Linked DNA regions of Homo sapiens. The protein of the gene in region 1 purifies or fractionates together with the protein of each later gene. This does not show direct contact. Each region holds a gene or a part of one and is shown on either strand. Other genes may lie near its edges.

The links. The genes of interacting proteins can lie anywhere in the genome.
Region 2: the proteins of SNAP29 (region 1) and TACC3 purify together in Homo sapiens (affinity purification with mass spectrometry; 3 studies listed by BioGRID and IntAct, with this or other methods). This does not show direct contact.

The regions. Positions count from the first base shown.
Region 1 is NC_000022.11:20,869,007-20,872,654, forward strand, and holds part of SNAP29 (synaptosomal-associated protein 29), read left to right. Parts: intron 1-1,330; coding exon 1,331-1,527; intron 1,528-3,648. UniProt on the Homo sapiens protein: SNAREs, soluble N-ethylmaleimide-sensitive factor-attachment protein receptors, are essential proteins for fusion of cellular membranes.
Region 2 is NC_000004.12:1,738,461-1,742,108, reverse strand, and holds part of TACC3 (transforming acidic coiled-coil-containing protein 3), read right to left. Parts: exon of another isoform or gene 2,411-3,648; coding exon of another isoform or gene 2,408-2,410; coding exon 2,331-2,407; exon of another isoform or gene 2,151-2,330; coding exon 2,107-2,150; exon of another isoform or gene 1,628-2,106; coding exon of another isoform or gene 1,548-1,627; exon of another isoform or gene 1,284-1,547; coding exon 1,123-1,283; intron 1-1,122. UniProt on the Homo sapiens protein: Plays a role in the microtubule-dependent coupling of the nucleus and the centrosome. Involved in the processes that regulate centrosome-mediated interkinetic nuclear migration (INM) of neural progenitors.

The DNA.
Region 1 (3,648 bases):
TGGCTCATGCCTGTAATCCCAGCACTTTGGGAGGCCGAGGCGGGTGGTTCGAGACCAGCCGGGCCAACATGGTGAAACCCCGTCTCTACCAAAAATACAAAAAACTAGCCAGGCATGGTGGCAGGCGCCTGGAATCCCAGCTACTCAGGAGACTGAGGCAGGAGAATCGCTTGAACACAGGAGGCAGAAGTTGCAGTGAGCTAATATCACGCCACTGCACTCCAGCCTGGGTGACAGAGCAAGACTCCATCTCAAAACAGAAAAGGAGGTGGAGAAGAGGGGTAGTGGTTGGAAGAAGGAATTCTCCTTTAGGGAAGATGTCTGGGAAGGCCTCTCTGAGAGAGTGGCCTTTGAAAGGAGACCCTAATTGGATGAGGGATGAGAGGCTGAGCCATGTAAGTATCTGGATGGAAAACATTACAGGCGGAGACAGTGGTGTGTGCAAAGGCCCTGGGACAGGGTCACCCGTGTTAACAGGTTTTAAAGCTGGAATTGTGGATGGGCTAGAGTCAGACACTAATAGGGCCCAGAGGGGACACTGGTCCTTGAAATAGAATTTGAGGATTTGACCATGGCCAGGAGGCTCAGGTGGCCCAGTGGGAACTCCTTAAATGGGAACTTCCTAAAGGAAGAATATAAGAACCAAAGTCCAGGGGGCAGTGCCAGGCCCAACCTGTGAGGGTTCCCAGAGTTGGAGGGCTAGAGAGAATCTGCTTCCAGTTCAGGCCATAGACTCTGAACCTCACAGGCACATTGCCATCCATCTCCCCTCACCCCCAACCGAGACGGAGTCTTGCTCTGTCGCCCAGGCTGGAGTACATTGGCACCATCTTGGCTCACTGCAACCTCTGCCTTCAGGGTTGAAGCAATTCTCCTGCCTCAGCCCCCCGAGTAGCTGGGATTACAGGTGCCCGCCACAACACCTGGCTACTTTTTGTATTTTTAGTAGAGAGGGGGTTTCACCATGTTGGCCAGGCTGGTCTTGAACTCCTGACCTCATGATCTGCCCGCCTCAGCCTCCCAAAATGCTGGGATTACGGGTGTGAATCACTGCGCCACCCTCTGCCATCCATCTTAACATGGCGCCATGAGCCAGCCTCTCAGGAAAAGGGTCTCATGAACAAATGAGGAAAGCAAGTAGAGGTAGGGCAGGGAGGGAGAGGCAAAGGAATGTGTTGTTGGAAAGGGTAGTGTGCCCCTCACAGATGACAGTACCCGTCTCCAGATGTGCCCACTGAGAGTTTATGAAGGGGCTGCTCCATGTGGTCCTTGACTGCCCTGGGGGAGAGTCACAGAAAGCTATAATGCCACTGCCTCTCGGTTTCCCCAGGAGCTCGCCCGTCAGCGAGGAGTCCTGGAGCGCACAGAGAAGATGGTGGACAAGATGGACCAAGATTTGAAGATCAGCCAGAAACACATCAATAGCATTAAGAGCGTGTTTGGGGGGCTGGTCAATTACTTCAAATCCAAACCAGTAGAGACCCCACCTGAACAGAATGGCACCCTCACCTCCCAGCCCAACAACAGGTGAGTGCATCTTCTACCATCTGGGTATAAAGGAGCAGAAGTGGGGATTAGTGCAAATGACCAAGACTTTCAGTCCACGTCAGTGCCATGAAGGGATCCAACAACCCTTTAAGTTACTCATCAGGGGATATTTGTCCTCAAACATTGTGAAACCAGGAACTGTTCTTCCCTGATCCCATGTTCACTTGATTGACATCTAGTCTGTCAATAGCTTCTCCAATAATTGTGACCCCACTACTTTGAAAGAGAGGGTGTTCACCTCAGCGTAATCTGTACAAATGTGACTCACTTCACATAATTTTTGCTTTAAAAAATCTTTAGGGCTGGGTGCAGTGGCTCACACCTGTAATCCCGACACTTCAGGATGCCAAGGTGGGTAGATTGCTTAAGCCCAGGAGCTCGAGACCAGCCTGGGCAACATAGTGGGAACCCAGTCTTTACAAAAATTACCCAGGCATTGTGGTGCACACCTGTAGTCCCAGCTCCTCAGGAGGCTGAGGTAAGAGGATCTCATGAGGCCTGGAGATCAAGGCTGCAGTGAGCTGTAATGGTGCACTCCAACCTGGGCTACAGAGGGAGGCCCTGTCTCAAGAAAAAAAAAAAAAAAAGTCTTTATGTCTAAATTTGTCATATCTAATCCAATTCGCCCATTGATTTTTATTTGAAAATTATAAGGCTGGGCTCAGTGGCTTATCTGTAAAATCCCATGCTTTCAGAGGCTAAGGTAGGAGGATTGTTTGAGACCAGCCTAGACAACATAGCAAAGACCCGTCTCTATAAAAACTAAAAAAAAAAAAAAATTAGCCAGACATGATGGCACGTGCCTATATTCCTAGCTACAGGGGAGACTGAGGTGGAAGGATTGCTTTAGCCCAGGTGTTAGAGACTAGAGTTAAGCTATGATGGTGCCACTGCACTACAGCATCAGTGACAGAGTCTCCCTGTCTCTAAAAAAAAAAAAAAAAAAAAAAAGATTTAAAGCTAAATAATTAAAATCAAAAAAATAAAGTTAGAAGTTGCTTTCCTCAGGTTTTGGCTCGAAATATAAAATCATACATGAGACTGGGGGCCAGGCACGGTGGCTCACGCCTATAATCCTAGCACTTGGGGAGGCCGAGGCGGGTGGATCACCAAGTCAGGAAATCAAGACCATCCTGGCTAACATGGTGAAACCCTGTCTCTATTAAAAATACAAAAAATTAGCTGGGCGTGATGGCGGGCGCCCGTAGTCCCAGCTACTCGGGAGGCTGAGGCAGGAGAATGGTGTGAACCCGGGAGGTGGAGCTTGCAGTGAGCTGAGATCATGCCACTGCACTGCAGCCTGGGCGACAGAGCAAGACTCCGTCTCAAAAAAAAAAAAATTCATGAGATTTTGGTAGACTTCAGTGTTACATGTTCAAGGATAAAGGAATGGAGTTTCTGCTGAAGTAGATTACTATTGTTTGTATTTCAGATCACTGTGTCTGTTTTTATTACAAAAACAACATGGCCACATTACAGACAATCTATACTTTACCTACCGCAACACAAAAACAGAAAATTTCATTTTCCCCTTATTCAGTATTTTCATAGTTGTAACCATAGTATTCTTTTGGTTTGATAGCCTTTTTCTTCCATTTAACCCAGAAAAACTGCTTGATATTATGTGATAACTCAGGTTCCATAACCATCTCTCTCTCTCTCTTTTATTTATTTATTTTTTATTTTATTTATTTATTTTTTTTGAGATGGAGTTTCACCCTTGTTGCCCAGGCTGGAGTGCAAAGACGTGATCTCAGCTCACTGCAACCTCTGCCTTCCAGGTTAAAGCGATTCTCCTGCCTCAGCCTCCCAAGTAGCTGGGATCACAGGTGCCCACACCATGCCTGGCTAATTCTTTTTTTTTGAGACGGAGTCTCACTCTGTCACCCAGGCTGGAGTGCAGTGGTGCGATCTCGGCTCACTGCAAGCTCCGCCTCCCGGGTTCATGCCGTTCTCCTGCCTCAGCCTCCCGAGTAGCTGGGACTACAGGCGCCTGCCACCATGCCTGGCTAATTTTTTGTATTTTTAGTAGAGACGGGGTTTCACCGTGTTAGCCAGGATGGTCTCGACCTCCTGACTTCGTGATCCATCCGCCTCCGC
Region 2 (3,648 bases), on another chromosome or scaffold:
TTTTTAATTTTAGAGATGGGGGTCTTGGTCTATTGCCCAGGCTGGGGGTGCAGTGATACAATCATGGCTCACTGCAGCTTCGACCTCCCGGGCTCAAATGATCCTCCCACCTCAGCCTCCCTAGTAGCTGGGACCACAGGTGTACATCACCATGCCTCACTCTAATAACGGGTCTGATTTTCACTCATGTTTCCTGTTCCTTTCACACTTGGTTATTCTGTGCCAGACACTAATTTAAAACTGCAGCAGCAATTTAAAGCATAAGATACCTTCTTCCCTAGAGTATTCAGGCTTGCTTCTGTTAGGCAGCTGGGCCCCAGCCACTGACACCCACCTGACTTCAGGACTCAGATGAGGTGTGGCTCAGCAGGCCCTGCAAGGGCCGCTTTTCCAGTTTAGTCTGACTCCCAGGGGACCCATCTGGTGTCCCCAACCCCCTTGCACCAACAGTGACAGCCCCTCTTCCAGCTGCACCTGCAGGTCCAGCTCCTCCACAGGAGGCGTTGAGCACCTCCGCTCCAACATTGCTGCTGTGGGCAGAACCCTCTGGCGGCCTCGCAGGCACCTTCCAGGCCTGCTCTGGGCAGATGGATGGCCCAGACATCCCTCCTTCCAGCAAGCATGTGGGCCTTGCCCAGCACAGAAGGTGGGGGGCGCTCAGAGTCCCGTGGCCAGGAGGACACCAGGGTGGCCTTGCACAGCCGTGACCACCTTTCAGTGGGCCTCCCGCCTTGGATACTGCATGCCCTGGGTCCCCAACCCTTGGGACCCAAGCGCTCGGACAGCCCAGACACCTTTCCGAGGTGCCCCAGGCCCCGGTGCACCAGCGCTGTCTCAAATCTCACAGATGCCTGATCATAGCCGAGTCGTCTGTCACACAACAGCGGACGGCTCAGATGGCCTCCCTGCTCACTCTGCCTCCTGCCGCCCTCAGCTGCCTCGCAAACCAGCTATGCTGTGACTCCTGCACCCTGTCTCGTTCACAGGTCATCCCATGCCCCCGTGGCAAGGGGAGGCTTGGCCAAGGACCAAGGTGCAAAGACAGCAGCTTGTAGCCCCGCTGGCTTGGACCATGAGTCCATCAGCCTCCGAGGTGAGGACACCAGGGTGGCGGAGACATACCTTGCGGTAGCCCTCGATCACCTCTTTCTGTTTCTCAAAACGCTTGAAGAGGTCGGAGAAGGACTTCTCCATGGAGTTCAGATCTGTGGTAAGTTGGTCTTTTTCTTTTAGAACTTTCTGGATTTCAGCTTTGGAAAGTTCCTTCTGCTTCTGAACTTCCTCTTGAGAAAAGAAAAGCAAACGTTCAGGATGAGGAGGCAACCGAAACGATGGGTGCCAGAGACAGCCCAAGGAATGAGGCAAGGGACTCGAGCGCCAGGAGGAGAGGTGGGCAGTGGGTGTGAGCCTCGGAGGGTGATGGGTCCCTCCACCCAGGATCTTCTAGGCCGGATGCAAAGCCCAGGAAACAGCTGTTTCCTCCACATCAGATCCGCAGGGAACTGGAGCCTGGGCCAGAGGTCCCTGAAGAGGCGGCGCCCAACACCCTAGAGCCTAGGGTGAGGCCTGGGAGCCGGTATGGCGAGCTCCAGGATGTGCGTCGTGCTTCGTGGTGGTCCTGGAGGGACTGCAAGGGCCAGGCGGTCACCTGCCGCCGGCTGACACTCAGCCTAAGACAGATCCCCACAGTAGCACCTCCAGGAGCCCAAGCTTTTGGGAGGCCAGATGAGGCCTGGTGTTCCCGTCCTGCCAGACACCTACAGAGGCTGCTGCTAGACATAGCCGCACGGCGAGGGCAGGGTGGAGTGGGGTAGGCCACGGCGGGACAGACTCTGCTCCCACCACAGCCCCACTGCTAGCTCAGCATCTGCACAACTGTGGGGCCTGCCAAGCCCTGGCTCCGTGGGAGCCACCAGCCTCACTACCACCAGCTTCCCCGCAACTCGCCTCAGTGCTTCCACGGCCGGGCCCATGTTGAAGGGACTCGTGTGTTAGGAAAAGGGGCCTCAGGAGGGTGGGGTCCTAGGCAGGGTGCAGGGCAGGGCCAGGGTGGGGCATAGGCAGCCCCTCGTGGAGGCACGTGGCCTCGGTGGCCCGGGCACTCACCCATGGCCTGGTACACAACCTCTTCGAACCTGTCCATGATCTTCCTGTGGGAGGAGAACAGACACACAGCCATTGCCTCGGGTGCCCAGCGGTCCCAGGCCAGGTGGGGATGGGGACGGGGACAGGGATGGCGAGGGGGATGGGGACAAGGATGGCGAGGGGGATGGGGACAAGGATGGCGAGGGGGATGGGGACGGGGAGGACAGGAGACGGGGCCTCCTTACCCCAGTTCCAGGTTCTTCCCGTGGAGCTCCTCACACCTGCTCCTCAGCTCCCGGTTCTCCTCCTGTGTCGCCTTTACCTGCTCAGGCCACACCCAAGTCAGCAGGCAGGCGGGCCAGACTGACCCTCCCAGGACCTCCCCACAGGATGGGGCCAGCCCGCACCCGAGGTCCCTGGAGCAATGTCCCAGAGGCACAGTTCCATGTGGGGCTTCCAGTGGGACCCTGGGAACCCTGTCGAGGCCAAGGCCACCTGCTCCACGTGCACCCGACTGCCAGGGGGCAGGAGGCATGAGGCTGCTGGCTGTGCTCCTGGGTGGAACCAGCAGGCACCCAACAGGTGTGTGTCCCTGCAGCTGCCCCCGCAGCCCAGTGGCAGATACTAGGGGTCCTAAGTGTTAAATATAGTGAACTCCAAGTTTGTCTTCAAAGAATCAGTAAGTCAGTATGTTCAGATCTCTTTTTTTTTTTTTGAGACAAGAGTCTCACTCTGTCGCCCAGGCTGGAGTGCAGTCACGTGATCTCTGCTTGCTGCAAGCTCCGCCTCCCGGGTTCAAGCCATTGTCTTGCTTCGGCCTCCCGAGTAGGTGGGACTACAGGTGCCCACCACCACGCCCGGCTAATTTTTGTATTTTTTAGTAGAGACAGGGTTTCACCGTGTTAGCCAGGATGGTCTCCATCTCTTGACCTCGTGATCCGCCCACCTCGGCCTCCCAAAGTACTGGGATTACAGGCGTGACCCACTGCACCCGGCCAGATCTCTTCTTTGATTCTCCATTTAAAATTCCTGGTTCTCTTCGCCCCTTGCTTCTAGTTTCAGTAAACAATTTTCCCGCCAGTCCTAATCAGTAGTTCACATCTGTTCCCTGGTCACCTGCTCCATCCTGACTCATCCCGGTCACCTGCTCTGACCTAAGTCACCTTGAGTTACCTGTTCCTAACCGTCCTTCCCGTCAAACTACTCACCCCACCACTCTGACTCTTACCCTGCCCTCTTTAAAATAGCCAATTGGAATTGGCTTAGACTGTGTGGTCCAACCTTAGCCAACAGGGGAACAACACAGCAGTAGGGCTACCTGTGTCAGGAATAAGAACCCCTTCCCCTCCCTTGTTCAGGTGTGCTCTTGCCATTGCTCCATCTGCGAGGGGCACCCTTTCTGCAGAAAGTAAAAACTGCCTTGCTGAGAAAATTAATGTTCGAGCACTATTTCTTTGTGGCACCAGAGAACAAGCATTGTGCATTTCTAACATAAGTTACATGCAGGGGCCACCTGCCCCCGGAGCCCAGGCCTGCAGAGGAGGGGGCCAGCCACACTGTGGT